7 linked regions of the Homo sapiens genome follow. The protein of the gene in region 5 purifies or fractionates together with the protein of the main gene of each other region. This does not show direct contact. Each region holds a gene or a part of one and is shown on either strand. Other genes may lie near its edges.

Evidence for each region.
Region 1: the proteins of PLEKHG7 (region 5) and AARSD1 purify together in Homo sapiens (affinity purification with mass spectrometry, with the first as the bait; 2 studies listed by BioGRID). This does not show direct contact.
Region 2: the proteins of PLEKHG7 (region 5) and MTMR1 purify together in Homo sapiens (affinity purification with mass spectrometry; one large-scale study listed by BioGRID and IntAct). This does not show direct contact.
Region 3: the proteins of PLEKHG7 (region 5) and KIAA1671 purify together in Homo sapiens (affinity purification with mass spectrometry; one large-scale study listed by BioGRID and IntAct). This does not show direct contact.
Region 4: the proteins of PLEKHG7 (region 5) and SYMPK purify together in Homo sapiens (affinity purification with mass spectrometry; one large-scale study listed by BioGRID and IntAct). This does not show direct contact.
Region 6: the proteins of PLEKHG7 (region 5) and FCSK purify together in Homo sapiens (affinity purification with mass spectrometry; one large-scale study listed by BioGRID and IntAct). This does not show direct contact.
Region 7: the proteins of PLEKHG7 (region 5) and CPSF2 purify together in Homo sapiens (affinity purification with mass spectrometry, with the first as the bait; one large-scale study listed by BioGRID). This does not show direct contact.

What each region holds. Positions count from the first base shown.
Region 1 is NC_000017.11:42,954,151-42,958,271, reverse strand, and holds part of AARSD1 (alanyl-tRNA editing protein Aarsd1), read left to right. Parts: intron 1-1,076; coding exon 1,077-1,134; intron 1,135-1,711; coding exon 1,712-1,868; intron 1,869-1,951; coding exon 1,952-2,068; intron 2,069-2,299; coding exon 2,300-2,430; intron 2,431-3,047; coding exon 3,048-3,114; intron 3,115-3,304; coding exon 3,305-3,396; intron 3,397-4,121. Other genes in the region: PTGES3L-AARSD1 protein, read left to right, coding at 1,077-1,134, 1,712-1,868, 1,952-2,068, 2,300-2,430, 3,048-3,114, 3,305-3,396. UniProt on the Homo sapiens protein: Functions in trans to edit the amino acid moiety from incorrectly charged tRNA(Ala).
Region 2 is NC_000023.11:150,696,065-150,700,185, forward strand, and holds part of MTMR1 (phosphatidylinositol-3-phosphate phosphatase MTMR1), read left to right. Parts: intron 1-3,130; coding exon 3,131-3,236; intron 3,237-4,121. UniProt on the Homo sapiens protein: Lipid phosphatase that specifically dephosphorylates the D-3 position of phosphatidylinositol 3-phosphate, generating phosphatidylinositol. Could also dephosphorylate phosphatidylinositol 3,5-bisphosphate to produce phosphatidylinositol 5-phosphate.
Region 3 is NC_000022.11:25,028,824-25,032,944, forward strand, and holds part of KIAA1671 (uncharacterized protein KIAA1671), read left to right. Parts: coding exon 1-717; intron 718-3,785; coding exon 3,786-3,873; intron 3,874-4,121.
Region 4 is NC_000019.10:45,849,191-45,853,311, reverse strand, and holds part of SYMPK (symplekin), read left to right. Parts: intron 1-776; coding exon 777-830; intron 831-926; coding exon 927-1,000; intron 1,001-4,121. UniProt on the Homo sapiens protein: Scaffold protein that functions as a component of a multimolecular complex involved in histone mRNA 3'-end processing. Specific component of the tight junction (TJ) plaque, but might not be an exclusively junctional component. May have a house-keeping rule.
Region 5 is NC_000012.12:92,733,706-92,737,826, forward strand, and holds part of PLEKHG7 (pleckstrin homology domain-containing family G member 7), read left to right. Parts: intron 1-2,773; coding exon of another isoform or gene 2,774-2,776; coding exon 2,777-2,872; intron 2,873-3,672; coding exon 3,673-3,816; intron 3,817-4,121.
Region 6 is NC_000016.10:70,467,814-70,471,934, forward strand, and holds part of FCSK (L-fucose kinase), read left to right. Parts: intron 1-72; coding exon 73-153; intron 154-1,035; coding exon 1,036-1,155; intron 1,156-1,338; coding exon 1,339-1,510; intron 1,511-2,500; coding exon 2,501-2,613; intron 2,614-3,157; coding exon 3,158-3,259; intron 3,260-3,368; coding exon 3,369-3,539; intron 3,540-4,121.
Region 7 is NC_000014.9:92,135,469-92,138,968, forward strand, and holds part of CPSF2 (cleavage and polyadenylation specificity factor subunit 2), read left to right. Parts: coding exon 1-28; intron 29-2,763; coding exon 2,764-2,879; intron 2,880-3,500. UniProt on the Homo sapiens protein: Component of the cleavage and polyadenylation specificity factor (CPSF) complex that play a key role in pre-mRNA 3'-end formation, recognizing the AAUAAA signal sequence and interacting with poly(A) polymerase and other factors to bring about cleavage and poly(A) addition.

The sequences.
Region 1 (4,121 bases), on a different chromosome or scaffold from region 5:
CCTTGGCCTCTCAAAGTGCTGGGATTACAGGAGTGAGCCACCGCGCCTGACTGAAATAAATTTTAAAAAATGAAAATATTATGTCACTCCTCTGCTTAAAGCTCTTCAGAGGCTTCCTGTAGGTCTTCGTGTAAAGCCAAACTTTTTACCATGGCATACAAGCTGTATCTGGGTGGCTCTTGTCTACTGCTGTAGCCTCATCTGGTGTCCCTTGACCTCTTGCTGGCTGCATCCTGGCCTTGCTTGTCATCTCTGGATTCCTTTGACATGCGCTACTTCTTTCTTCCTTAAGGCCTTTGGCTGTCTTGTTCCCTCTTCCTTGATAGTTCCTCCTCTTTCTCCTTTTCTTCCTCCTCCTCTTCCTCTTCTTTCTCCTCATCATCACTCTTGTCAATCAGGGATGCTGCTGTATCTCTTATGTCAAGCCCTGTGCCTTGCATTTGGTAGGTACTCAATAAATACTTGTTGAATGGATGAATGCTGCATATTGGAACTTAAGTTCACTGGGCACAGTGGCTCACACCTGTAATCCCAGCATTTTGGGAGGCCAAGGCAGGTGGATCACTTGAGGTCAAGAGTTCAAGACCAGCTTGGCCAACGTGGTGAAACCCCATCTCTACTAAAAGTAGAAAAATTAGCCGGGCACGGTGATGCACGTCTATAATCCCAGCAACTCAGGAGGCTGAGGCACGAGAATTGCTTGATCCTGGGAGGCGGAGGCTGCAGTGAGCCCCTGCACTCCAGCCTGGGCAACAGAATGAGACTGTCTCAAAAAAAAAAAAAAAAAAAAAAAAAGGAAGTTAAGTTCAAGTCCAGCCCCTTATAAGTTACATTGCCATGGCAAGTTATTTGATCTCTCTAGGCTTCAGTTTCCTCATCTGTGAAATGGTATCATAAGGCCTCTTGCAGAATTCTCATTGTGATTTTCAATAAAGTATCTAAAGTGTATTACCCAGTGCTTAGCAGGTCTTCAACAAGGAGAATTTCTGTGCTTTTATCATTGTAGCTCATATTTTATCATTGTGGGAGTATGTAGGCTTCTCACTTTTCTCCTGTCTCTGGCTCTCTTTGCTTAGGGCAGCATCTCATCACGGCAGTTGCTGACCATCTATTTAAGCTGAAGACAACATCATGGTGAGTGGGAGGCATAAGACTAACTGTAGGCAGGCCCATCCCAGCACTGGGAGGGAGGCGGAGGTGGGAGAATTGCTTGAGCCGGGGAGATTAAGGCTGTGGTGAGCTGTGATTGCCACCAAATGGCAGCATGGGTGACAGCGAGCTTGTCTTAAAAAAAAAAAAAAAAAAGGCCAGGCGCAGTGGCTCACGCTTGTAATCCCAGCACTTTGGGAGGCCGAGGCGGGCGGATCACGAGGTCAGGAGATCGAGACCATCCTGGCTAACACGGTGAAACCCCGTCTCTACTAAAAATACAAAAAATTAGCCGGGCGTGGTGGCGGGCGCCTGTAGTCCCAGCTACTCGGGAGGCTGAGGCAGGTGAATGGCGTGAACCCGGGAGGCGGAGCTTGCAGTGAGCCGAGATCGCGCCACTGCACTCCAGCCTGGGCGACAGAGCGAGACTCCGTCTCAAAAAAAAAAAAAAAAAAAAAAAAAGTGGTGAGAGGGTATGCTTGTTCCAGTTTTTAGAGGAAAAGCTTTCAGCTTTTTCTTGTTCAGTAAGATATGTTATCTGTGGCCACTGTACTTCTGACAGGGAGTTAGGGAGATTTCGGAGTGCGATTGAGCTGGACACCCCCTCTATGACTGCAGAGCAAGTAGCTGCCATTGAGCAGAGCGTCAATGAAAAAATCAGAGATCGGCTGCCTGTGAATGTCCGAGAACTGAGCCTGGATGATCCTGAGGTGGAGCAGGTAAGGGTAGAGCCAGAGGGATGGTTTCTGCGGAATGATTCCTCATCAGATTCAGACAGTCCCTCCCCTCTCCTTGAGTCCAGGTGAGTGGCCGGGGTTTGCCTGATGATCATGCTGGGCCCATTCGGGTTGTTAACATCGAGGGCGTTGATTCCAACATGTGCTGTGGGACCCATGTGAGCAATCTCAGTGACCTTCAGGTAAGTGAGGAACGGCTGTGGAGTGGCTGAGAAGAGGGATTGGGGGAGAGGGGATCACATGGGGCTGGGAGTGGGAGAGGGGGATAATCGAGGAGTCCTAAGTGAAATCTCCCCTTCACTGTTTCAGAGCTGAGGAACAGATAGGTTTCTCCTGCCTTCAGGTTCTAGGATCCGCTGTGGTTTATGCATGTGCACACGTGTGTGTGTGTGTTACCCCCTTGCCTCATGTAGGTCATTAAGATTCTGGGCACTGAGAAGGGGAAAAAGAACAGAACCAACCTGATATTTCTGTCTGGGAACCGGGTGCTGAAGTGGATGGAGAGAAGTCATGGAACTGAAAAAGCACTGACTGCTCTGCTTAAGTATGCCTGTTTCAGTACCTTCGATTACCTCCCATTTCTGAGATTTTCGACATAATCTCTTACCTCTGGGAGATAAGATGCAATCGTAAATGATAAAGTGCGGCCAGGCGTGGTGGCCCACATCTGTAATCCCAGCACTTTGGGAGGCCGAGGTGGGCGGATCACGAGGTCAGGAGATCAAGACCTTCCTGGCTAACACCGTGAAACCCCGTCTCTACTAAAAATACAAAAAGAACTTAGCCAGGCATGGTGGTGGGCGCCTGTAGTCCCAGCTACTCGAGAGGCTGAGGCAGGAGAATGGCGTGAACCCGGGAGGTGGAGCTTGCAGTGAGCCAAGATCGTTCCACTGCACTCCAGCCTGGGCGATAGAGCAAGACTCTGTCTCAAAAAAAAAAAAAAAAAAAAGATCAAGTGCTTTGGATAGTAAATCAGAACCACGAAAAGTGGTTAATTCCTTTGTATGTTTTCTCCCAGTTGCCTAAGAGACCTCCTCAGAATATCTCCTGGTCCCTGACTGCAGGGAGGCACCATAGCAAGAAGGAAATTATTGATTTATGTCCCCAACATCAGAAACGACTGGGAAGCTGCGCAGGTCTCCTCTGACCTTTCTCTTTCAGGTGTGGAGCAGAGGATCATGTGGAAGCAGTGAAAAAGCTCCAGAACTCCACCAAGATCCTGCAGAAGGTGATTTATTCCATGGAGGGTAGAGAGGGCATGGGCCCTGCCTAGGATAGGCTCTGCAGACTTGGTCTTCTGCCTAAACAGATGTGTAGTTTGTCAAAGTGGGAGTGAGGGGAGAATGAGGTGGAGGGAAGCTGATACTCTCTATTGTTATCCTTTCCATTTATCTACTGAGTTACCATATCCATTTCAGAATAACCTGAATCTGCTCAGAGACCTGGCTGTGCACATTGCCCATAGCCTCAGGAACAGTCCAGACTGGGGAGGTGTGGTCATATTACACAGGTGAGAAATTAGGAGCTGGACACAAGGAAGGGGAACTGTGTTGGGCTTAGGGCTCAGTGTCTTCTCTATATGCAATGTACAGTGGGAGGTGGATTGCTCACTGGTATTCTCAAGGTTGAGTAGATCCTAAGAAATATGTTACTGGCCGGGCGCGGTGGCTCACGCCTGTAATCCCAGCACTTTGGGAGGCTGAGGCGGGTGGATCACAAGGTCAGGAGTTCGAAACCAGCCTGGCCAGCATGGTGAAACCCCTTCTCTACTAAAAGTACAAAAATTAGCTAGGCATGGTAGTACGCGCCTGTAGTCCCAGCTACTCAGGAGGCTGAGGCAGGAGAATCACTTGAACCCGGGAGGCAGAGGTTGTGGTGAGTGGAGATCACGCCACAGCACTCCGGCCTGGACCAACAGAGTGAGACCCCATCTCAAAAATATAAAAAAAAAAAGAAATATGTTACATACCAGGCCTCCTGGGTTTGATATTAACATATTTACTGTAACTCTGTATCTTTTGTTTTTTGTGTTTTTTTTGAGATGGAGTCTTAGTGTGTCTGGAGTGCAGTGGCATGATCTCGGCTCAGTGTAACCTGTGCCTCCTGGGTCCAAGCGGTTCTCGTGCTTCAGCCTCCCGAGTAGCTGGGGGATCACAGGCATGTGCCACCACACCAGGCTAACTTTTGTATTTTTGGTAGAGCTGGGGTTTCCCCATGTTGGCCAGGCTGGTTTTG
Region 2 (4,121 bases), on a different chromosome or scaffold from region 5:
TTTAGACAGGTTGAATTGGCAGGGTCTCTGGGCCAGACTAGTGGACAGGTCTTGTAGGAACATCAGCATTGAGATCAGGAGAGTCCAGGTTGGAGAAACAGAGCTGGGAGCCTCCAGCCTGTAAGTAGTTATTGACACCAGGAGTATAGAGGGCAATTGCACAGACTACAGAGAAGGGATGGGGGAGGAATCATGGCCTCCTTTCTCAGTTCTGTCAGCTCAACAAGCTCAGATTCACACTTTTCTTTGAAGAGTGACCTCTAGAATGGAACCTGGCTCTATGGGTGGGACTTGGCCATGTCCCTGGGACTATGGGGCCTTCACTTCTCTTCTGAATACTGTAATTAATAATGAGGAAGCTGTGGTCCTGTAAGAGGATGTGTCTTGCCAAAGATCATGGAGTTAGCTGGTGACAGAAGCAGGACTCATGTCCAGGCCTCCTGTCTGCTAACCCACTGTGCTTCACTGTGTGTAACTACATTGGCCAGGATGCTTCTGGTTGCAGGTGACAGAAACCACAGTTCAATCTAGCTTAAGGCAAATGAGATGCCCTGGCTCACAGAACTGCTCCAGACAGGAGGAGAGATGGCCACAGGCACAGTTGAGGTCAGGATTGCAAACAGTGTTGTCGGGACTCCCCATCTCTCTCTCCCTCTCTCTTTTATTTTCCCTCACTTTTTAATCGCTGTGAGTTCCTTAAGATGGTAGGGGTGGGGTGGGGTGGGGAGTGGCCTCCAGCAGCTCTGGATACAGATCCATGTATTTCAGGATCCAAGGGGAAAAGTCTGGGATTGGCTGGTCCTAGGTAACTCACCTACAAGTGGGAGCAGGTGGAGGAAGGGGTCAACCTTCTTCTCCGCTTTCCCCCACAGAAGCCTGTGTTGTGGGGAAGGGCAGTTCCCAAAGTAAAGAGGAAGGTCTTTATCAGAAGAAGGGGGAAGGCATGCCGGGCAGGCAGGTGGTAATAGCAGGTCACACTCATGCTCAGCAGTTGGGTTTCTGCAGTTTCTTCCTGTATTTGCAACTGGTGGGTGCTGACAGAAAAAGGCATTATGACAAGAAAAGTATGATATACGTGGGAATGAAAGTGACTTAACCTTTAAAAAGGAAACAAATCTCTCCCTTTTCTCTCCTTCTCCCCCTCAGGTCGAAATTGTGGTATATAGATTCCTGGCATGTGATAGGAATTTCTGCTCATTCAGTATTTTCAACCATACAGATAACCTCTGGTCTGTTTTGATCAGAGACTGCAATTTGGATCACTAGCACAGAACTTCAGTTTTCTTTCTTTTACTATTTGGGTCATTTTCCATATTGCCTGGGGATTCCAGGTGTTTCTGTCCTTCAGATATGTGAGTGTGGGTTTAATTAGTGATATGATTTTTTTTTTAAAGGCCTGAAACATTCTTTACAGTGAAAGCTACCTGCAAGGTAAACTTTTGTCGGTGTTTTTAGCCCTCTAGCTTGATTTCTTAGTGTTTTGCCAAATTGTGAGAGGAACCCGGCCTCTGGGGGCAATTGTTAAATCTCTTACTGCGCTAGTTGGCTTATGTGGTCTTTCAGGTCAGGTGAGTACAGCCTGACCACTTGCCAGTCGTGTGACCTTGGGCAAAACTGGACCTTAATTTTTTCATCTGTAAAATGGGTCACTGTGAGGCTGGGCAAGGCTACGTGTGTGAAAATGCTTTGATGCCTCAGAGCTCTGTGGGAGTGAAAGATGACATTTTCTTTGCATTGCTGTGTTTTCATGTAAAGCGGTTGGCTCGCATCTGTGCTGCTGGCTTCAGTGCAGTGAGTCAGTCGCTATTGGTTGTTCCATGTCCTGTTGAGGACAGCCACTTTCTCACAGGGCATGTCACCTCTGTGCCTCGATTTTCTCTCCTCAAAGACAAGTCGGCTAGTCCCTGTTCTGCCTTCTCATCACACCATGGTTGTGAGGCTCTGATATAATAAAAACCATTTGTGCTTGTAATCCCAGCACTTTGGGAGGCCAAGGCGGGTGGATCACCTGAGGTCAGGAGTTCAAGACCAGCCTGGCCAACATGGTGAAAACCCGTCTCTACTAAAAATACAAAAATTAGCCAGGCATGGTGGCATGCGCCTAAATAATCCTAGCTACTAGGGAGGCTGAGGCAGGAGAATTGCTTGAACCCAGAAGGGCAAAGTTTGCAGTGAGCCGAGATCGCGCCACTGCACTCCAGCCTGGGTGACAGAGCAAGACTCTGTCTCAAAAAAAAAAATAAATAAAAAATAAAAACCATTTGTAAGTTGTCAAAGCACTTATAGAAGTGTAAGGTATTGTTAGTACTACACAGAGAACATCATTTTTCTAGGCTGTAATTTATAAATCTCATGTTCAGCTTTACTTTTCTGAGTCACTTTGCTTCACTCAAAAGTACACTATTTTCTAGATTTAAAACTACCAACATGAAATTGATTGAATGTTTGAAAAGCCTATGCTGTAAGATAAATATTTCACATATTTCTCCCGGCTGGGTGTGGTGGCTCATGCCTGTAATCCTAGCACTTTGGGAGGCTAAGGCGGGTGGGTCACTCGAGCCCAGGAATTCGAGACTAGCCTGGGAAACATGGCAAAACCCTGTCTACACGCGCGCGCACACACACACACACACACACACACACACACACACACACACACACAAAAGCCGGGCCTGGTGGCATGTGCCTGTAGTCCCAGCTACATAGGAGGCTGAGGTGGGAGGATCACTTGAACCTGGGAGGTTGCAGTGAGCTGAGATTGCACCACTGCACTCCAGCCTGGGTGACAGAGTGAGACCCCATCTCACAAAAAAAAAAAGAAGTATTTCTTCCATATAATTTTAATAGAGTAAAATTCCATTAAATGGTAGAGAATAGTAAGCTTAACTAACACCTAGAATCTTCAACTTTGTTTGAGAAAATTGGGTGATTCATTTAAAATTAACCTGGAATCTAATCTTATTTCCTAGTTGTCAGTCGCTATTTCAGTTCTTACATAAAATGTGAAGGTAACCAAAGAGTCTAGTTAGTTCATCTAAAAAAAGAAGTGTTATCATATTCCTATTCAGTGCTAATTTTTTCACTGAGATCCTATGATATAACGTTTTGTAATCCATGCTATTTTTTTTAGTCCCACAGGATCACATGTTGAATGGTGTAAACAGCTTATAGCTGCTACAATTTCTAGTCAGATTTCAGGTTCAGTGACATCAGAAAATGTGTCCAGAGATTACAAGGTAAGCAACATTGAGTGTTTAATTCATTTTCAGTATGCTAAGTAGCCAAGAAGCTTTGCAGTTTTAATTCAAGTGAGCTGTTGGCCTTTTGATGCAACATGGCCATTTGCTCGAGAATAAGGATGAAAGGTTCTCTGTTGTTAGATCTGAAATGTAGAAGAGAAATTTTACCAGTATCCAGTACATGTAGTCATAGTTTTGTAATTGAAAGGAGAAGCTGTCTTTAGATGACAATGATTCTTTTAAAAATCAAGTTCCATTTTATAATAATAAATGCATATAGCTTCTTTGTTAGTATTGTGAGTTTCAGGAAATATCTTGATGTACAATACTTCCCTAACTTCACAATTTTTTAATTTATGTATTATCTGTGAGTATTCAGCATTAACATGTGATACTAGAATGTATAAAAACCCTTCCAGAATCTCAAAAGAGTATTGTATGGGCAGCCTCATTTTTCAGTCCTTACTGAAGTGAAAATCTCTTTTTGTTCATTTTAAAAGTTAGATTCCCTGCTTATTCTAAATTTAAGTGATAAGCTCCTTGTCAGCAGAGACTAGGGCAGTTTTACCACTGGCTTCCCAGGCACAATCCTGGAGCATAACAGTTGCTCAATAAATATTGAATCAATTAACAAATCAAAAAAATCGCTTGTTCCATCTTTGTTAAGGCTAAAGACTAACTTTGTTTTAATGTCAATAAACTATTAATAGGTATATTAAATGAAATCACATTTATATTTCAGTACTGATGTTTGCCTAAGTTGAGGTTTCTGTTTATTAGTGGTCATTTTTCCTGCTAGTAAGAGATGATTGATTTTTCACAAGTGTGTGTAAAATGCATTTGGTATCCCAGACTACCATTAGTTAATAGTCTCTCAATATC
Region 3 (4,121 bases), on a different chromosome or scaffold from region 5:
GTGGGTGAGGAAGCCCAGGCCCTTGTCCATGGACCTCACGGCCCGGTTTGAGAACAAAGAGGCCTTGCTGAGGAAGGTGGCCGATGAAGGAAGTGGACCCACAGCAGGGGATATGGCTGGGCTAGAGAGGCCCAGAGCAGCGTCCAAGCTGGACAGGGACTGTTTGGTCAAGGCGGAGGCTCCTCTTCATGATCCTGATTTGGACTTCCTGGAGGTGGCCAAGAAAATCCGTGAACGGAAGGAGAAGATGCTTTCGAAGCCGGAGATGGGCAGCCCCAGAGCCCTGGTGGGGGGCTCATCTGGGGTCACCCCCAGCAATGACCAGAGTCCCTGGGAAGAAAAGGCCAAGCTGGACCCAGAGCCAGAGAAGGCTGCTGAGTCCCCCTCACCCAGGCTGGGAAGGGGCCTAGAACTTGCTGAGGTTAAGAGCAGAGTGGCGGATGGGGAGGCCGCGGCAGGGGGAGAGTGGGCCTCCAGGAGGAGTGTCAGGAAGTGCATCAGCCTGTTTCGGGAGGACAGCACCTTGGCCTTGGCAGTGGGGTCTGAATCTCCCCTGGCCACCCCTGCGTCCCCATCGGCGGCACCAGAGCCGGAGAAAGGGGTTGTGAGCGTTCAGGAACGGATCAGAGGCTGGACTGCCGAGAGCTCAGAGGCTAAGCCCGAGGTCAGGAGGAGGACGTTCCAGGCTCGGCCGCTGTCGGCGGATTTGACCAAATTGTAAGTAGGCACATCCCACACCCCTCTCTCAGCCGCCCACCCACACACCCTGAGGAAGACGGAACCAGGCTCCATGCTGGGCACTTGTCACCCCCCCTCAGTTTACCCATAGCCCAAGAGGAGGTAGTGGCAGTGTCCATTTCTCAGATGAGAAAGGTGAGGTGCGGAGAGGCAGTGCAGCTCTCCTCTGGGTATGGCCAGCCGGGGGGCCCGGAGCCCAATTTTCATGGCTTTTCTCAGCTTCAGATGTAGTGTGTGAGTGAAGTGGGCGGTATGTGCCCATTTCATGGAGGCAGGGCAGAAGGGTGAAATACTGTGGGGAGGTGGGAGCTGGATGGCATTCCAGCTCAGCCTGTCTCCATAGCTAAGCCTTTCTTCCCTGAAGTCAGAGAGAGAACGCTTAAGATTGGGCCTAAGCCTTTATGAGTGGCCCAAAAAATAAACTCAGAGGAGTCAAGGTAACTTGGGCTAGTCAGTTGGTTAATACTGATATTCTACGTCATTTGGTTAATAATGATATTCTAAGTCAGTTCGTTAATACTGATACTCTTAAGTCAGTTGGTTAATAATGATACTCTAAGTCAGTTGGTTAATACCGATGTTGTCAATCAGTTGGTTAATACCGATGTTCTAAGTCAGCTGGTTAATACCGATGTTCTAAGTCATTTGGTTAATAATGATGTTCTAAGTCAGTTGGTTAATAATGATGTTCTAGGCCGGGCGCGGTGGCTCATGCCTGTAATCCCAGCACTTCGGGAGGCCGAGGCGGGTGGATCACAAGGTCAGGAGTTTGAGACCAGCCTGGCCAACATGGTAAAACTCTGTCTCTACTAAAAATACAAAAATTAGCCAGGCGTGGTGGCAGGCGCCTGTAGTCCCAGCTACTCAGGAGGCTGAGGCAGGAGAATCGCTTGAACTCGGGAGGCAGAGGTTGCAGTGAGCCGAGATCACACCACTCCACTCCAGCCTGGACAACAGAGCAAGACTCCGTCTCAAAAAAAAAACACCAAAAAACAAAAACAAAAAAGATATTCTTAGTCATTTGGTTAATACTGATGTTCTAAGTCAGTTGGTTAATACTGATGTTCTAAGTTAGTTAATAATGATATTCTAAGTCAGATGGCTAATAATGATATTCTAAGTCGGTTGGTTAATAATGATATTCTAAACTTGGCCCACTTCCGACATCTCTTCTTTGTTTTCCCACAAGTGGCCACAACAGAGAGATGCCACTCGGCATGATCGACTGGCTCTTAATGGCATGCATGCCACTGACATACTTTGTCCAGGGTGGAGCTTGCAAAGGCAGGATCTCTGGGCAGACTGCCCTCCCGGCCCTGGGAACCAGGACAGCCAGCCAAGCCAAAGCTAGACCACTGGCCCTCAGTACTTTAGAATAACCGGAAAAAATACCAGTGCCTGGGCCCCACCCCTAGAGATTCCGATTCACTTGGTCTGGGGAGGGTGTTCTATTTTGGTAGTTTTTATTTTATTTTTTATTTTTATTTATTTATTTATTTTTGTGACCCAGGCTGGAGTGCAGTGTTGCAATCTCGGCCCACTGCAACCTCCACCTCCCGGGTTCAAGTGATTCTCCTGCCTCAGCCTCCGCAGTAGCTGGGATTACAGGCACGCGCCACCACACCCAGCTAATTTTTTTTTTTTTTTTTTTTTTTGAGACGGAGTCTCGCTCTGCCGCTGAGGCCAGAGCAGTGGCACGATCTTGGCTCGCTGCAAGCTCCGCCTCCCAGGTTCACGCCATTCTCCTGCCTCAGCCTCCCAAGTAGCTGGGACTACAGGCGTCAGCCACCACGCCCAGCTAATTTTTTGCATTTTTAGTAGAGATGAGGTTTCACCGTGTTAGTCAGGATGGTCTCGATCTCCTGACCTCGTGATCCGCCCGCCTCAGCCTTCCAAAGTGCTGGGATTACAGGCGTGAGCCACCACGCCCGGCCTAATTTTTGTATTTTTAGTAGAGACGGGGTTTCACCATGTTAGTCAGGCTGTTCTCGAACTTCTGACCTCATGATCTGCCCGCCTCAGCCTCCCAAAGTGCTGGGATTACAGGCATGAGCCACGGCACCCGGCCTGTATTTTGGTAGTTTTTAAAAGCTTCCAAGTCGATCTTATGTGTAGCCGGGGCTGACAACCCCTGAATTAAGATATCAGAGAAGGACACCTATGCCACGGTCCTAATATGCTTCCTCTCACTATGTCATGGAAGAGCCTTGGAGAGGCCGTGTGATTATCCCCATCTGACAGGTGGGGAAACTGAGGCTCTGAGTTTAGACAGAACTCCTCTCAGCCTCACATATCCCAGGAGACAGACCCTGGGTTGCTGAGTATGGGTTAAGTTTAAGTGGTTTGATTTCTCTCCCTTTCCTTTTCTTCAGTCCCCAGCTTTGAACTAAACACGTGCTACATCTTCAGGTATTTACACCAGAATGCTCTCCAGAGATGGAAAGATTCTAGCTCCACACCCTCTTCCCTTTTTGAGGTGGGGAAAACGAGGCCCAAAGAGGGCCCTGGTGATCCAGAGAGGCAGAGACAGACCTGGGCCCCCACACATTCCCTGACAGCCCACTACCCTTCAGTCTGGGGGCTGCTCTGAGGTGGGGCTGCTGTTTTACCTGGCACTGCTAACAACAGCCATTCATTATCCCTCCTGGGGCATCTTCACTCTTCCCTAAACGCCCTCACGTAGCTATTAGGGCCTTGAGTAGCCTCTTATCTGCCCCATAAAAGGGATGGGGAGGTGTTAATTATCCCTGTTTTATAGATGAAGAAACAGAGGCTCAGGTGAGGTCACAAGCCTAAACCAAGCTCCCCCAGTGAAGAGGCAGTAGAGCTGGGACTAGCACCTGGGTGTCTTCCCCCAGCTGGGGCTCCTCCACCCCAGTAATGCTGTGTTTGAGGTAGGCTCTCCCCACTGGGCAGTTCTCCTTTTGGTAAGTGGAAAGGAAATGTCCTTTCTGAAGGTTACTTGGCCTGGCCTCCTGAGCTGGTGTGTGGGCTGGGGGGAATAACAGCTTCCAGCTCCATGAAGGTAACTCAGATCTCTGTACCAGGTTTTCAAGTTCAGCTTCCAGCAACGAAGTCAAATATGAGAAGAGTGCTGAGCTGAGCGGCGAGTTTCCTAAGGAACCGAGAGAAAAGGTAAGGAGTGGCTGTGTAGCACGTCTCTCATTAACCAGCGGGCAGTTATGGCTGCTGGAGAAAGAGCCTCCATGATCTTCTAGGCCCCAGGAAGACTCAGAAACATGTCATGCACACGATAAAACATTTTTTCTTCTAATGTTGGGACTTTGAAGTCCCTTTTGGCATGAAGAGTTGTGATTCCCTACTCCCAGGTGTTAAATGCTGTTTACAAATGTTATCAGGCATTTTTTTTCTTCGCAAAGAGG
Region 4 (4,121 bases), on a different chromosome or scaffold from region 5:
AAAGGCAGAAGACGACATGGGACACTTGGGCTGGGCATGGTTCAGAGCAGGAGGCAGTTGGAGTTCAGAGACTGGCAGGGTTAGCATTCCTGTGTGAGAACCCGTTCGGCTCCTTCATCAGCCTGTAGCCTTGTGGAGTAGCCCCACCTCCGAGGTGGAGTGGATGCACCTGGTGCCTCCCCCATGGGTGGTCATGAGGCCGTTTAGCAATAGTAGCTTGAGTTGTAGCAGCCAGGTCCTGTGCCAGCTCTTTGCTTATTGGAGGATGTCCATGGGAAGGGCTTACTCCAAAGAGCCTGGCAGGCACAAGGGCTTCAGGAATTGGGTTCTCACTGTGAAGATGTTTGCTGAATCATGGCAATGTGAAGTAGGGAGCAGAAGCAGAAGGAGAGTGGGGAGAACTGATGGACAGGTGAATGGAGGCCAAACCTCAGGAAGGCCTGAGCCTTGGGGCACTTTCCTCTTTTTTTCAGCCCCCTCCTGTGTCATGTCCTCACTATCTACCAGGACCTGTGCCTTGTAGGATCTCATTGTAGCCTCCTAACATCCCTTTTGAGTTGATGTTTAAGAGTCTCATTTTATAGAAGAGCAAACTGAGGTTCAGAGACCATGCCCAGAGCATAGCACCCTTGGTAGGGAGAAGCAGAGCCAGGCATTGAAATGAGTGTATCTGCTGCCTAGCCCTCTGCTGTCTTCCCCTCTACTCTCCTGTCTGCATTGATTGGCCCCTCGTTTTATATGGGTATTCCTCCTCCCCACCCCCAATCTCCTTCCAGGTCCAGGAGCTGATCATCAACAAAGACCCCACACTACTGGACAACTTCCTGGATGTGAGTGACTGACAGAAGAGAAAGGGGTGTGGTGTAGGGGAAAGGGGATGTGGATCCTTGTGTAGCCCTGATCCACTTTCTCTCTAACATTGGCAGGAGATCATCGCATTCCAAGCAGACAAGTCAATCGAAGTGCGAAAATTTGTCATCGGCTTCATCGAGGAGGCATGGTATGGGGCGAGGCACGGAGCCCCGGGAGCATTCTCACTGGTGGCAGCCTTCAGCTCGTGGCCTGGCCTGGAGGCCACCACTGAGAGGCCTGCCCTCTGCTTCCCAGACCCTTTCTCTCTCTCATACACACTGATTCCCCAGCAAATACTTAATAAGATGGAAACCCTGGGGTCATCTGTGATTCCTCTGCTTCTTCCACACTTCACATCTACATTATCACTAAGGACTGTGGGCTCCACTTTGAGAATATCTGTAGCATCTGACCGTTTGTCAATCACTTCCTCTGCCACTATGCAGGCCCAAGCCACCCTTTCCTCCTACCTGATGACTTCAGTGGTCTCTCTCTGGCTCCCTTCTTTTTCTTTTTAGTTAAATTGAAATTCATATAACAAAATTAGCTTTTTTTTTTAATCTTTTGTTTGTTTGTTTGTTTTGAGACGGAGTCTCGCTCAACTGTTGTCCAGGCTTGAGTGCAGTGGCGCAATCTCGGCTCACTGCAACCTCCGACTTCCGGGTTCAAGCTATTCTCCTGCCTCAGCCTCCCAAGTAGCTGGGATTACAGGCATGCGCCACCACATCCGGCTTATTTTTGTATTTTTAGTAGAGAAGGGGTTTTGCAATGTTGGCCAGGCTGGTCTCAAACTCCTGACCTCAGGTGATCTGCCCGCCTTGGCCTCCCAAAGTGTTGGGATTACAGGTGTGAGTCACTGTGCCTGGCCTTTTTTTTTTTTTTGAGACTGAGTTTTGCTCTGTTGTCCAGGCTGGAGTACAGTGGCGCAATCTTGGCTCATTACAACCTCCACCTCCCAGGCTCAAGAGATTCTTGTGCCTCAGCCTCCTTGAATAGCTGGGATTACAGGTGCGTGCCACCATGCCTGGCTAATTTTTGTATTTTTAGTAGAGATGGGGTTTCTGCCATGTTGGCCAGGCCAGTCTTGAACTCCTGACCTCAAGTGATTGGCCCACCTTGGCCTCCCAAAGTGCGGGGATTACAGGCATGAGCCACGACGCCCAGCAAAAATCAGCTATTTTAAAGTGAACAAGTGAGTGGCATTTAGCACGTTCACAATCTCGTTCCAGGGCATTTCATCCCCCAAAGAGGAATCACCGCACTCATTTCCCGCTTCCACTCTTGCACTCAGCAGCCAGAGTGACGCTGTTAAATGTAAATCAGTCTTGGCACACCCCTGCTCTCAGACCCCAGCTGGCTCATCAGCTTACTTAGGTGGAAACCCAAACTCTCACTTCGGCTTCATCTCACTTCTGATCCTCTCTGTCTCCCCTGCTCCTCAGAAGTCACAGTTGGATTTCGCAGCCTGTCTGCTTGCTGTTCCTGCTAGGGGCCCTCGTCCCCAGGTTGCCACCTGGCTCTCCCCTCCCTTCCCTCAGGTCTCTTCCTCAGAAATTCCTTCCTGCCCGCTCCCATGCAGCCCCATGTCTCAGGCACCCCACCTTCACTGTTCTTTACAGTGTTCCTCACTCATTGAAATAACCTTGATTCTTCCCGCAAAATATCAGCTCTGTGAGGACGGGGCTTGACTTTTTCTGTCTTGCTGGCCACTTTGTCCCCAGTACCTGCCTGGAGCAGTGTTGTCACCTAGTAGGGGCTGACTACGTATTTGTTGCACACGTGAATGAGTTGAACATAACAGTCACCACATGGAACACGTACTGTGCCCTGCGCTGTGTCAGGTCCTTTCCCGTGTTATCTCCGTAATTATGGCAGCCTCGATGGATACTGTGGTTATCCTCTTTTTACAGAAAGGGAAACAGGCTCAGAATGGTCAAGTGACTTGTTCAAGCTGGTCACTTGCTCATTTGTTTATTAAAGCTTTACTGGATGCTTTGTGACTGGGAGGAAGTAGACTAGCTACTGTGTATTAAATATTTGTTTGTAAGGCACTGTATTAAATGCTTGAGCAGCTTCATTATTCGTAATACTATGGATCAGTTGTTTGACCCTTTAACTGAAGAGAAAACAGTCTCAGAGAGGTGAAGTGAATTTTCTTAAGGTCACACAGCCAGAATGTGGCAAGGCTGGGATTTTATTTATTTATTATTTTTTTGAGATGGAATCTCACTCTGTCGGCCAGACTGGGGTGCAGTGGTGCAATCTCGGCTGACTACAACCTCTGCCTCCTGAGTCAAGTGATTGTCCTCCCTCAGCCCCCCCGAGTATCTGGGATTACAGGTGCCTGCCACCACACCCAGCTAATTTTGTTTTCTGTTGTTGTTTTTTTTTGTTTTTGTTTTTGTTTTTGTTTTGAGATGGAGTTTCGCTCTTGTTGCCCAGGCTGGAGTGCAATGGTGCGATCTCGGCTAACTGCAACCTCCACCACACAGGTTCAAGTGATTCTCCTGCCTCAGCCTCCCAAGTAGCTGGAGTTACAGGTGCCCGCCACCATGCCCGGCCAATTTTGTATTTTTAGTAGAGATGGGGTTTCACCACGTTGGTCAAGCTGGTCTCAAACTCCTGACCTCAGGTGACCCACCTGCCTCAGCCTCCCAAAGTGCTGGGATTACAGGCGTGAGCCACTGCGCCTGGCCAAGGCTGGGATTTTAACTCATGTCTGCAATGCCAGAACCCAAATATCCTATCTCCCCATTTACTGGGAGAATTTGTGGTAAATTTTCTGAATTTGTAAAAAGTCCATTCAGCAAATACATACCATGTGACTGCTGTCGTACCAGGCATCCATGTTAGGCTGTAGTATAGCAGTGAGCAAAAACGTATTATTCCTGCCTTCATGTAGCTGACAGCTAAGTTTCATATTTTTTGACTGATTTAATTAATATTTCAGATTGTAATGTATGCTGTGAAAATTCTGTGCTGAGCTCCTATTTATTCATTGAACATTTGTTGGAGGCCCTTCATTTTTTTCTTCAATGAAAATGACCCTGCTGGGGTTATTGCCAAGCTAGGAAAGGGTCCCTACTTTTTGAGCCCTCAGACTGAGGCAAGCAAAACTAGTGATTACAGAAAACAAAGTGCTTTAAAGTAGCAATGGCTGGTGTTTACCGAATGCTTTTTGGTGTTTACTGAATGCTTTCTGCATGTCAGGCACTCTTCTAAGCACTTTACAAGTATTGTTGCAATTTTCCCAAAAAATTGCATAAACA
Region 5 (4,121 bases):
CAGGGAAGCTCTGAGGGCTGCCTGAGAGATAGAATATGCTTTCAGAAGGGAAGAACTTGGCCAAGGAAGGGACACTACTACAAGTTGTTGGGATTGATCCATTCTTTTCCCCAAAAAGAAGCAACTTGTTCTACACACATGTGTTGAGCAACTGGGCCAAGTACTGGGACAGATATCTAAGATGCCAAGATGTCCATTATCAGCTCACAATTGAGAAGATGGGACTGACAAGTAAACTGTGGGTGGCGGAGGAAAACATGCTAAATGGTTGGCACTATGTTGGAGGGAGGGAAGCAATGAGGGAGATACACAAAGGAAGAATAATTAGTGGACGTTTTCAGCAAATGTTTTCAGCAATGAAGAGAAAGTCATTTCTAGAAGCTTCACTTTCACAAGAACACAATATCTGTTTTCTTAAAATTAACGTCTTCTTCTTTCATTTATCCTCTTAGCCTTATTTATCATGTAATTCATATCTCTATAAATGGTAATCCACATCAATATAACAAACATACTTCTATGTTGTCATGTGCTTTTCCAATCTTTAGAGATTTTTCTTTTTCCTCCTTTTTTCCTTCCTTTCCTCCTTCCTTTCTTCCCTTCCTCCTTCCTTTCTTCCCAACCATCAATATAATATTAGTAATAAAAGCTAACACCTCTATAACGTTTAGCACATTACCAGGTACTGTTACTGTTTGCATGTATTCTTGTTTATGCATGTCAGTTAACACATGTGAACTCATAAATTCTACAACAATCCAACAAGGTAGGTAACATTATTACTTCTCATTTTGAAAATGGGGAAATGGATTCAGAGAGTTTGACTAGTTTGCCTGAGGACACACAGCTCATAAGCTATGGAGCATGCAGCAGTTCCAGGCAGTCTGGCTTTGAGTCTGTTCTACCCCTGATGTGGCCCTGTTCCTTCAACTGTAGGAGTCCCCATCACCAGACCTGGAAACTCCTCCCTCCATTCTCTCATTAGAGCTCTCCATAGATCTTGCCTTTTCTCATTGATTTGTCAACCACTCCAAAAATTTATATATTCAGTCTTAACCTTCAGTTTTGCTCCAGTTCCATGTCACCAATGACTACTGTACATCTTCATGCCACCTACCTCTTAGTTACTAAGTTTGAGACTCCAGAATTAACCTTGGCTTCTCGATTTCTTTACCCTGTGTATCCTCTCTCGTAACCTTCAAATGCTTCTCATTGCCTCTCCTAACCACTGCCACCACAATGGAGGCAAGAAGGTACTAAATGGGTGTGTCGTTTTCAAGAGTTAATGTGACCACTGGGAGAATGGTCTCCTCTCCCCTCACTGGAATACCCACCCAGCCATTTGGCCAGGAGGCTGGTCAAACCCATAGAAAGCCATGGTGAGTGCCCTTCAAAACACGGGGTTGGCACTCACTTTCCCACAACTCCAATGCTGCTTCCATTGTCTCAGCCTCTTTCTTTTCCAACTGGCTGCTGATTTTTTATTTCCACAACATGCAGTCACTATGGTTTCAGACATCAACAAAAGGCATATGTCCCAATTGCAGTAGGAGGTCTTTAACTGGTTCCAAGATTCCTTTGCTGCTGTGGAGGCTAATGAGTCTACAATAGGTTTCCTCTTTCAGTGCCATAACCCTACCAGAGAAACCAGCCACAGCCCATTAGCACATTCTGAAACTATGACACGGTCTCCTTTCAGCACACAGGGAGCCCCCTACCTGCAACAGCAGATAACCTGTGCCTTCTCTTGCTCCTGAAAAAAACATTGATTAACTTTCACAAAACTGTTTAGATCCATGCCAATATCGTGCACTCTGAGGCAATAGAACAAGTTGAAAAATTGTGATAAACATTCATTTGAAATGCAGCCAAGCTGACTTTTAAAAGCCTTGCACATTGTTATTTGATAGCTTCTTCCTGCTTTGGTTGGTAAAATGAACTCTTTAAGTGGGCAATTCATGATGTCGCAATAGAATAGTGAATGAACTAAAAAGAAAATGTTCACAATATAAGCTTAAAAAGCAAGTTGCAAAAGGATGTGTAAATATGGTACATTATACCATTTAAAAATTAATTATGAATATGATCAGAATACCATATTTCCAATGGGTATATAGGGGTGAAGACACATTTCATGCTTTTTTTTGTTTGTTTTTTCTCAAATTTTCTACAATAAACATATTATCTTAGAAATCAGATTTTTTAAACAAATATTATTAAGAAAAAATGACTATAACAAAAATAAGTGGGTGATTCCATTCTAAGGAAAATAGAGTTTCCAGCATATTCTGGTATTCTGTAGCAGAGAATTATTGTTTGGGGCAACTCGCTTGAACACTGGGCTTTATTTTGTCATCTGCTAAATTAAGGGTTGAACCAATATGTCTGAGGTACCTTCTGATGTTAATAAATCTTAGGGTCCAGAGTTTGGAAAAGTTAAGACTGTGAAGGCTATGTCACCCCAATGGGTAGGCATGATAAGACTGTTTGCTATATGACCATTCTGTGCCTAGGATTTTTTTTTTTTTAATTTGTAAAATGAGAGGTTTGGACAAGGTAGTCTCACGGGCCTGTGTCCCCCAGGTCTGACATTCTGTGGTTCTGCAGCTCCTACTAGAGCTCAGAAATGGCTTTGGAACTGTTAGTGGCTTAAAGACAAAATATGCCATCTCTTATCATGAATGTTAGGGAATGAACGAAAGATGCCAAGGCTACCGAAGTCATGTCATTAAAGAATCAATGTTTGAAAATCCTGTTTCTAACCATCTTCGAGCAGGGCAAAGACAAACACAAGCACATATCTGATCTGGAAAACTGCCTGTCCTCTGTGAAAATTACCAGCTTCAGGGGCTATGACTTCTACGGTCTTAAGGTATCTTTCAAACTGTTAACTATGGGGTTTGACTTTTTCTTTTCGTTTTTTGGTGGGGTGGGGAAGGTCGGGTCAGTATTTTAAGCTGCCAGATTACTGCCTTGTTTATAGTAAGAGCAAAATGCAAGAGAGGAACCCAGGACTGAGCAGGGCCTGCTCTCCTCAAACACACTGAAAGCTGGGGAAAGTCGTTTTATCTTAAATAAGGTAACAAATGTGAGAGCACTTCATAGGCCAGGAAGCCTCTACAAATGTTAAAAGTGGGTGTTACTACTCTTCGTCTCTCTGGGCCTGGATTTCCTCATTTGAAACGTTAAGTTGTTTTTGATAAGACAATTTCTAAAGGTCTCTTTGCACTCTAAAGCTCTCACTTCATGCTTCTTCAGTAGTTAATTTCAATAAGTTTTGCCAACGGAACCTGGAATCAGACTTCCCAGTCCTGGGTTTAGGGTTCTTTGAGTTTTTTTTGTCAATAAACTGAAAAAGACTCATGATATTCTCAAGCATAATTCAAAACATCATCAATCTGAATTGATTTGAATCTTAAACTAGAAATAATGCACATTGTGCATTTCATGCTGCATATTAGGAGGAATTGGCATCCCGGAGCCCCACAGAGAGAAGCTGTGGCTTGGGTCACTTGGGGAGTCACTGTCAAGAGGGATGCCCAGGGTCTGAAGCAGGAAATCATGATTTCGGGGGTTGCTTGGTCCTTTGGAACTGCAAGCCAAAGCAAATAGCCAACAGGTCAATCCACTGAGGTGGAAATGTTTTGTTCTCTCTTTTTCCCTCATGTACAGGATAAGACCTGGGATGAAGTCTTGGAAACACATCACAAACTCCCGACCGATCAATTAGACCTGAAAAAGCAGCAAGAGGCCGTGTGGGAACTTTTCACAAGTGAATGCACCTATTTTTTGGACCATTTATTAGTTCTTAAGATGGTAATGCCAGGCTTAATTTTTGTAGTAGATGGAAAATATTAATTTGTTTTTTTGGGCACTTGTTTTCCTCTTCTGAAAGAAATAAAGAAAAGAAAGAGAGAAAAGAAAGAAAGAGAAAGAGAGACAAAGAGAAAGAAAGGAAGGAAGGAAAGGAAGGAAGACAAGAAAAGAAAAAGAGAGAAAGAGAAGAAGAGGGAGGGAAGGAAGGAGGGAGGAAGGGAGGGAGGGAGGAAGGAAGGAAGGAAGGAAGGGAAAGAGAGGGAACGGGAGGCCAGGTGAGGCTTTTTTCTCCCTCTTTCAGGGGA
Region 6 (4,121 bases), on a different chromosome or scaffold from region 5:
CACCTGTGGCTGTGGCCTCCTTCCAGATCCCTTCCTGCTCCCTCCGCTGATTCTGTTTCTCCCTGCACATAGGGCCTTGTTTTGGACATTTACTACCAGGGCACTGAGGCAGAGATTCAGCGGTGTGTCAGGCCTGATGGGCGGGTGCCACTGGTATGGCTGCTGGGCCCAGGTTGCGGGGCTTTGGGGACCTTATGGGACAGGGAGGGAGGGTCTGACTTCCTTCGATTCCTTCTAGAAGCCTCCAGGACAAGCTAGAGCTAGAATCTGAGGACAGGGTAGCCTTGGAATTCAGGGTCTTGTCCTGAGCCAGAAAGCCTAGAACCAGGCGGGCACGGTGGCTAACGCCTGTAATCCCAGCACTTTAGGAGGCTGAGGCGGGTGGATCAGTTGAGGTCAGGAGTTCGAGACCAGTCTGGGCAACGTGGTGAAACCCTGTCTCTACTAAATACAACAATTAGCTGAGCATGGTGGTGTGTGCCTGTAATCCCAACTACTTGAGAGGTAGAGGCTCGAGAATCGCTTGAACCCAGGAGGCGGAGGTTGCGGTGAGCAGAGATCGTGCCACTGCACTTCAGCCAGGGTGACAGAGCGAGACTCTGAATCAATCCCCTGCCCGCTGTAAAACAAAACAAAGCAAACCTCAAAAACTCAAACGAAAAAAGAAAGCCTAGAACCAGAATGTGAGCAAGTTAGGGAGTGCGGTTGGGAGGAGGCCTAGAGCCAGACTCCGGGAATGCTTCCATCATGAGGGGCAAGGATTGGAGAGGCATGGAGATCTGGGAGTGGACCATGGCGAGGGTGGAGAACTGGGTTCAGGAGAAGGCCTGACAGTTGAGGGTGTCCCAGAAGGTGTCTTGGTGGGAGCTACCCCAAGTAAGCCTGGAGTCTGGCTGCTGGAGTGGTCAGAAGGTGACACTCCCTGCCTGGTATGGCACTCAGCTTCATGTGGCCCATCTGCATGTGCCCTCCCTGACTTGTACCAGGGCCTGGTCCAGGGCCCTCCATCTCTGATCCTTTTGGGGTCCCTTCCAGGTCTCTGGGGTTGTCTTCTTCTCTGTGGAGACTGCCGAGCGCCTCCTAGCCACCCACGTGAGCCCGCCCCTGGATGCCTGCACCTACCTAGGCTTGGACTCCGGAGCCCGGCCTGTCCAGGTGACTGGGGGAGGGCAGCTAGGTGGGGCCTGGCTTGGGGGCGAGGCACTGTGTGACCTCAGGCCAGCCACTTCCCCTCTCTGGGGCAGAGTCTCCGCAGACGGGACTGCCCTGGTTCAGCCTCAGAACTTGGGGGCTGAACCCCTGCCATGCCAATAGCTGTGCTTCTTCCCCTTCCCCTAGCTGTCTCTGTTTTTTGACATTCTCCACTGCATGGCTGAGAACGTGACCAGGGAGGACTTCCTGGTGGGGAGGCCCCCAGAGTTGGGGCAAGGCGATGCAGATGTAGCGGGTTATCTGCAGAGCGCCCGGGCCCAGCTGTGGAGGGAGCTTCGCGATCAGCCCCTTACCATGGGTGGGTACTGCCTCTCAGCTCCCTGGGGTGGGGAGACCATGGGAGTGAGGACCCCAAGAATGGAGCTGCTCACTGCATGCTGGGCCAGGCAGCCCAGCACAGGGACTGGGCAGTTCTCCTGTCCTGTGCCAGAGCCCCCCACTGAGCTACCTCCTTCCCCTTCTTGTCTTCCTTTTGTCTCATTCCTGGGCTCTCCCAGCCTGTCCACTTTTGTTTCTGTTTTTTTTTGTTTGTTTGTTTTGTTTTTTGAGACGGACTCTCTCTTTGTCGCCCCGGCTAGAGTGAGGTGGTGCGATCTCAGCTCACTGCAACCTCCGCCTCCTGGGTTCAAGCAATTCTCCTGCCTCAGCCTCCTGCGTACCTGGGATAATAGCCATGCATCATCACACTTGGCTAATTTTTCTATTTTTAGTTGGTCAGGCTGGTCTTGAACTCCTGGCCTCAGGTGACCCGCCTGCCTTGGCCTCCCGAAGTGCTGGGCTTACAGGCATGAGCCACCATGCCCGGCCCTAACCTGTCTGCTTTCTTTTTTTTTTTTTGAGACAGAGTATGGCTCTGTTGCCCAGGCTGGAGTGCAGTGGCGTAATTTCGGCTCACTGCAACCTCTGCGTCTCAGGTTCAAGCGATTCTCCTGCCTCAGCTGCCTGAGTAGCTGGGATTACAGGTGCGTGGCACCATGCCTGGCTAATTTTTGTATTTTTAGTAAAGATGGGATTTCACCATGTTGGTCAGGCTGGTCTCGAACTCCTGACCTCGTGATCTGCCTGCCTCGGCCTCCCAAAGTGCTGGGATTACAGGCGTGAGCCACTGTGCCCGGCCAACCTGTCTACTTTCTAGCTGTGTTGTGTGGCTTTGGGCAGGTTCCTGACTCAGCTTCCCCTAACAGGCTCATGGCCACACCTGCCCCCATGTGTCTCTGCTGCTGGGAGGCAGCCTGGCCCCTGAGTCGCAGCAGGCATGGGGTTGGGTTCAGTACTTATGTCTTTACAGCCTATGTCTCCAGCGGCAGCTACAGCTACATGACCTCCTCAGCCAGTGAGTTCCTGCTCAGCCTCACACTCCCCGGGGCTCCTGGGGCCCAGATTGTGCACTCCCAGGTGGAGGTGAGACCTCCCTGCCCCTCCGGTGCCTGCTGGTTGTCTGGGGTCAGGTGGGATGTGGATTCCCGGGAAGAAAATAGCCGGCACTTGGAACAGATGACCCGAGTGCAGGTGTTACCCTGGTTTACACATGAAGTGCTGGAGGCTCAGAGAGGCTAAGTAACTTGCCTAAGGCCACAGAGCCAGTAAGTGGCCAACTCAGGATTCTGCATTGAGCTTGCCTGATTGAGAAGCTAAAGGAGACCTTTATTTGGGGTCTGCCTGGGGTGACAGTGGTGGGCCTGGGTCAGTGCCGTGCTGCTGAGGAAGGGGACAGGTAGGGTTCAGAGGTGGCCCCCAGGGTGGCAAGGTTGGGCGTAGTTGGACAGGTGGGATGGAAATAGGTCTCAGGCTGGGGCCAAGGCAGGTCCAGAGAGGAGTCTAGGGTGCTGCAGGGCAGGGGAGCAGTAGGCCTGGACGCTTTGCCCCTGGATGCTTGGCTTGGGAGGAGAGCTGGGGCAGCCCTGGGCCTCGACCCCCCTCATGCTCCTCCTACCTGGCTGCACAGGAGCAGCAGCTTCTGGCGGCCGGGAGCTCTGTGGTCAGCTGCCTGCTGGAGGGCCCTGTCCAGCTGGGTCCTGGGAGCGTCCTGCAGCACTGCCACCTGCAGGTGAGGCCTGAGCGTGTGGGCAGATTGGGGCGAGGGTGCTGGCATCCCGCATGTGTTGGGGGGTGTTGGGTGCCTGCCCACCCAGGATGCCTGCCCTGTCCCCCACCAGGGCCCCATTCACATAGGCGCTGGCTGCTTGGTGACTGGCCTGGATACAGCCCACTCCAAGGCCCTGCATGGCCGGGAGCTGCGTGACCTTGTCCTGCAGGGACACCACACGCGGCTACACGGCTCCCCGGGCCACGCCTTCACCCTCGTTGGCCGTCTGGACAGCTGGGAGGTAGGCAGTCACCCTGCATTCCCTCACCCCCATCTTCAGGCTTTGGGGAGCCCAAGGAGTCCTGGCCCCCACCCCACTGCGGGGTTCTCTGAGCACTGGCCCGTGGGACAGGCTGTGAGGAGGGTCGGATGTAGGGAGGAGAGAATGAGGGAGGAGATAGGGTGAAGATAGGCTGTGAGACCAGCAGAGTCTCCACAGGCCTTTACCTCCCTCCTTGCATCTGCTCTGCCAGGTGGGCTGGGTGGGGATTTTGTTTTTTTTCTGGAGATAGAGTCTTGCTCTATCACCAAGGCTGGAGTGCAGTGGCCCAATCTCAGCTCACTGCAATCTCTGCCTCCCAGGTTCAAGCGATTCTCCTGCCTCAGCCTCACGAATAGCTGGGACTACCAGCGTGCACCACCACGCCCAGCTTAGTAGAGATGGGGTTTCGCCATGCTAGTCTGGTTGGGTGGGGTTGTTGTTTTTTTTTTTTTTTTTGAGACTCACTCTGTCTCCCAGGCCGGAGTGCAGTGGCGCAATCTTGGCTCACTGCAAGCTCTGCCTCCCGGGTTCACGCCATTTTCCTGCCTCAGCCTCCTGAGT
Region 7 (3,500 bases), on a different chromosome or scaffold from region 5:
CAGTTGACTTCAACCACAAGAGGGAGATGTAGGTATATCAAGAGAAAAGCTAAAGGCAATGCAATTGGTATTATTTTATTCTTTGGAGAAAAAATAAGAAACACAGTTTTTGTTTTGGTTACCAGAAATTTAGAGCAACTTAAAACCGTCAAATAGGGAGTGTTTTCAAAATTAATTATTTGCATAGTAAGGGGGAAAGTATGGTATAAGACATAAGAGATTTTAAAAATTTATAGGTTAAGTATACACTCTACAAAACGGGTATCTCCCTGGAGATGTTGCAAAGGAGATGAATTTTTTACGTATCAAATTACATGTTCTTGACCTGCTATTTAACACAACTTTGTGGATGGGTTGTTCTTTTGTTTTGTAACGTGATATGGTTTGGCTCTGTGTCCCCACCCAAATCTCATCTTATAGCTCCCATAATTCCCACATGTTGTGGGTGGGACCCGGTGGGAGATGATTGAATTATGAGGTTGGGTCTTTCCCGTGCTGTTCTTGTGATAGTGAATGGGTTTCACGAGATCTGATAGTTTTAGAAACAGGAGTTGCCTTGCACATAATGTAATTACCATCTAATATAACTGCCCTGTATGTTTAAAGTTAGTCCCTTTGAAAGGGAACTCAATTCTAGTTATGATTTTACACACTTCATGTGGCACTCAGAGCATTACTATATAATATTTTGGTGTTTAGTCTCTTACAGGCTCGTTTTGTTTTATCTGTACATTAAGTTCATAGCTATTTTGTGTTACATTACAATAGTCTCAGGATCTTTATATTAAGAAATATTTAAGACAAATAGACTGAATTTTAGACACTTATAACCATAGATTAATGAGGAAAGGATGGCTATGTTGCAGGGCAAAAGAGTGAGGGTCGTGATCAACTCAGTATACCACTGGAGGCTATATGAGTAAACAGCAAACTGTTCGCATAAACGCAGAAAATTGGCAAACTGACAAACTGTGTCTGCCACCCAGAAGGAATGCTGAGGGCAGTCAGGCCTCAGGTGCAGGTGTTTCTTGTGATTAGACACATCTGAAGCCTGTTAGCAGTAATGTGAACCTGTGATCAATTAAGCAGCTGACCAATTGTTACCTCGTCCTCCCTGCTCTTTCTACCCAATAAATATGAAGGGCTGTAGAAGCTGAAGGCAGCTCCCTTTGCTCACTAGAAGCAGGGAGCTCTCTTCTTCTTCTCCTGACCCCTTCCTTTAAAATAGTTACTTTTGTTTTAAGTTTTCATTTCTGCATTCGTCCTCCTTCGTTCAGTCTCGTAGTAACCGTGGCAAACTGCAGCATGGCTATTTGAGTAAATGGTATTGAAGGATTCAACCATTTTGGAAAAAAATCAATTTGTGTCCTTTTAATTATATAACAAAAGAAATTTCAGATGGATTAGAACTAAATAGAAATGAAGCAATATTGGTGAGTCTGATCTCTGATTTGGAAAAGACTTTGTAAGCATAAAAATAATGAACCAAGTTACAAAGTAAAAGTTTGATAGATTTGATGACATACAGGTTCAAATGTCTGAAACAACAAATAAAAAAAAAAATCAAAGTAGGAAAATATTTGCAGCAAGTTGCCCAAAAACTTACAACATATATATAAGATCAAGTATTAATTTATTAATAAAAATATACCAGTTGCAAGATGGACAAAAGTTATAAAGTCAAAAGAGAAAATTTAAATGATCTTTTTTTGTTAGATACCATTAAAATTATTATTATTCTTATTTATATTTTTATGTATTTTTTTGAAACAGAGTCTCACTCTGTCACCGAGGCTGGAGGCACAATCACGGCTCACTGTAGTGTCGACCTCCCAGCTTCAAGCAATCTTCCCATTTTAGCCTCCCAAGTAGCTAGGACTACAGGTGCGCTCTAACATGCCTGGCTATTTTTGTAATTTTAGTAGAGATGAGGTTTTGCCATGCTGCCCAGGCTGGTCTTGAACTACTGGGCTCCAGTGATCTGCCCACCTCTGTCTCCCAAAGTGTTGGGATTACAGGCATGAGCCACTGCACTAGTCCAAAATTATTTTTAAATGGTGATTTTCTTCTGGGAAGTATGTAGAATTGGTCAGTCTTTTTGATTGAACTTTTCTGGATGAGGTTAAATCTTGCTGGAAAGCCTTTTAGCAGTACTATGTATTAACAGTAAATACATTTTTAGGAATGTGACCTAAAGAAACAATCAGAAATGCAATTGAAGCTTTTGTAAAAAATGTTCTTTGGAAGATTATAATGGCAAAAATAAGTGACCGAAATATCAGTAAAGGGAAAGGATCAAATACAGTGTAGACACAATAAAATGTTTTTATAACTGTTAAACATTTAGTTTAGAAAAAAATTTTTATGTCCTGGGTAAAAACCAGGATATAGAACTGAGCGTATAGGAATGTATATGGGATATCAGCTTTGTAAAATACATATGTATATCAGTACTTACCATAAGACAGGGCAAAAAGAAAAATAAAAAAAATACATATGTGCATAGAAAAACTTATATGGTTAGCAGGATGTACACCAAAATATTATGTCAGTTATCTCTGAGTAATGGTACTCTGGAAGATTTTTATTTTCTTCTTTATACTTTTTTGAAGTTACTGGATTTCTTATCAATGAGCATGTCTACTTTTATAGTTAGAGGAGGGAACACCTTATAAATGAAGCTGCTTATTTTTTAAGTAAGAGAAGCTATTATTGTTTACTTGAAATGATATAAAATATTCCTCTTCTTAAACTTTCTTATAGCCATTTAAATGGATGTTCCCTGGAAATGCTAAGCAGGCCTTCCCTACTTATCACAGATTCATTCAATGCTACATATGTACAGCCTAGAAGAAAACAGAGAGATGAGCAGCTTCTGAGTACGTATTCTTTCACGTCCTTATTATTATTATTATTTTGTAACTTTTTGTATATTTAGGGAATATAAGTACATAAAAGTACAGGTTTCTTTTTTTTTTTGAGACGGACTTTCGCTCTTTCACCCAGGCTGGAGTGAAGTGGCGCGATCTCGGCTCACTGTAACTTCCGCCTCCTGGGTTCAAGTGATTCTTGTGCCTCAGCCTCCCGAGTAGCTGGGATTACAGGTGTGCACCACCACGCCCAGCTAATTTTTGTATTTTTAGTGGAGACAGGGTTTCTCCATGTTGGCCAGGCTGGTCTTGAATTTCTGACCTCAGGTGATCCACCTGCCTTGGCCTCCCAAAGTGCTGGGATTACAGGCATGAGCCACCACGCCCGGCCACAAGTATAGGTTTCTTAATGCATACGTTGCACAGTGGTGAAGTTTGGCCTTTTACTGTATCCGTCTCCAGAATCGTGAATGTTGTACCCAATGTATAATGTCCTTTTCAAGGAGCTGTGGAAATGCATGGTAGTGGGAATGACTGTATTCTGTTTAGCACTTTTCTTGGTCATAAGAGATTGGTTAACTTTAGTATTTTTGAAAAAAATATTATGTGACCATCAGTTTTTGTATAAGA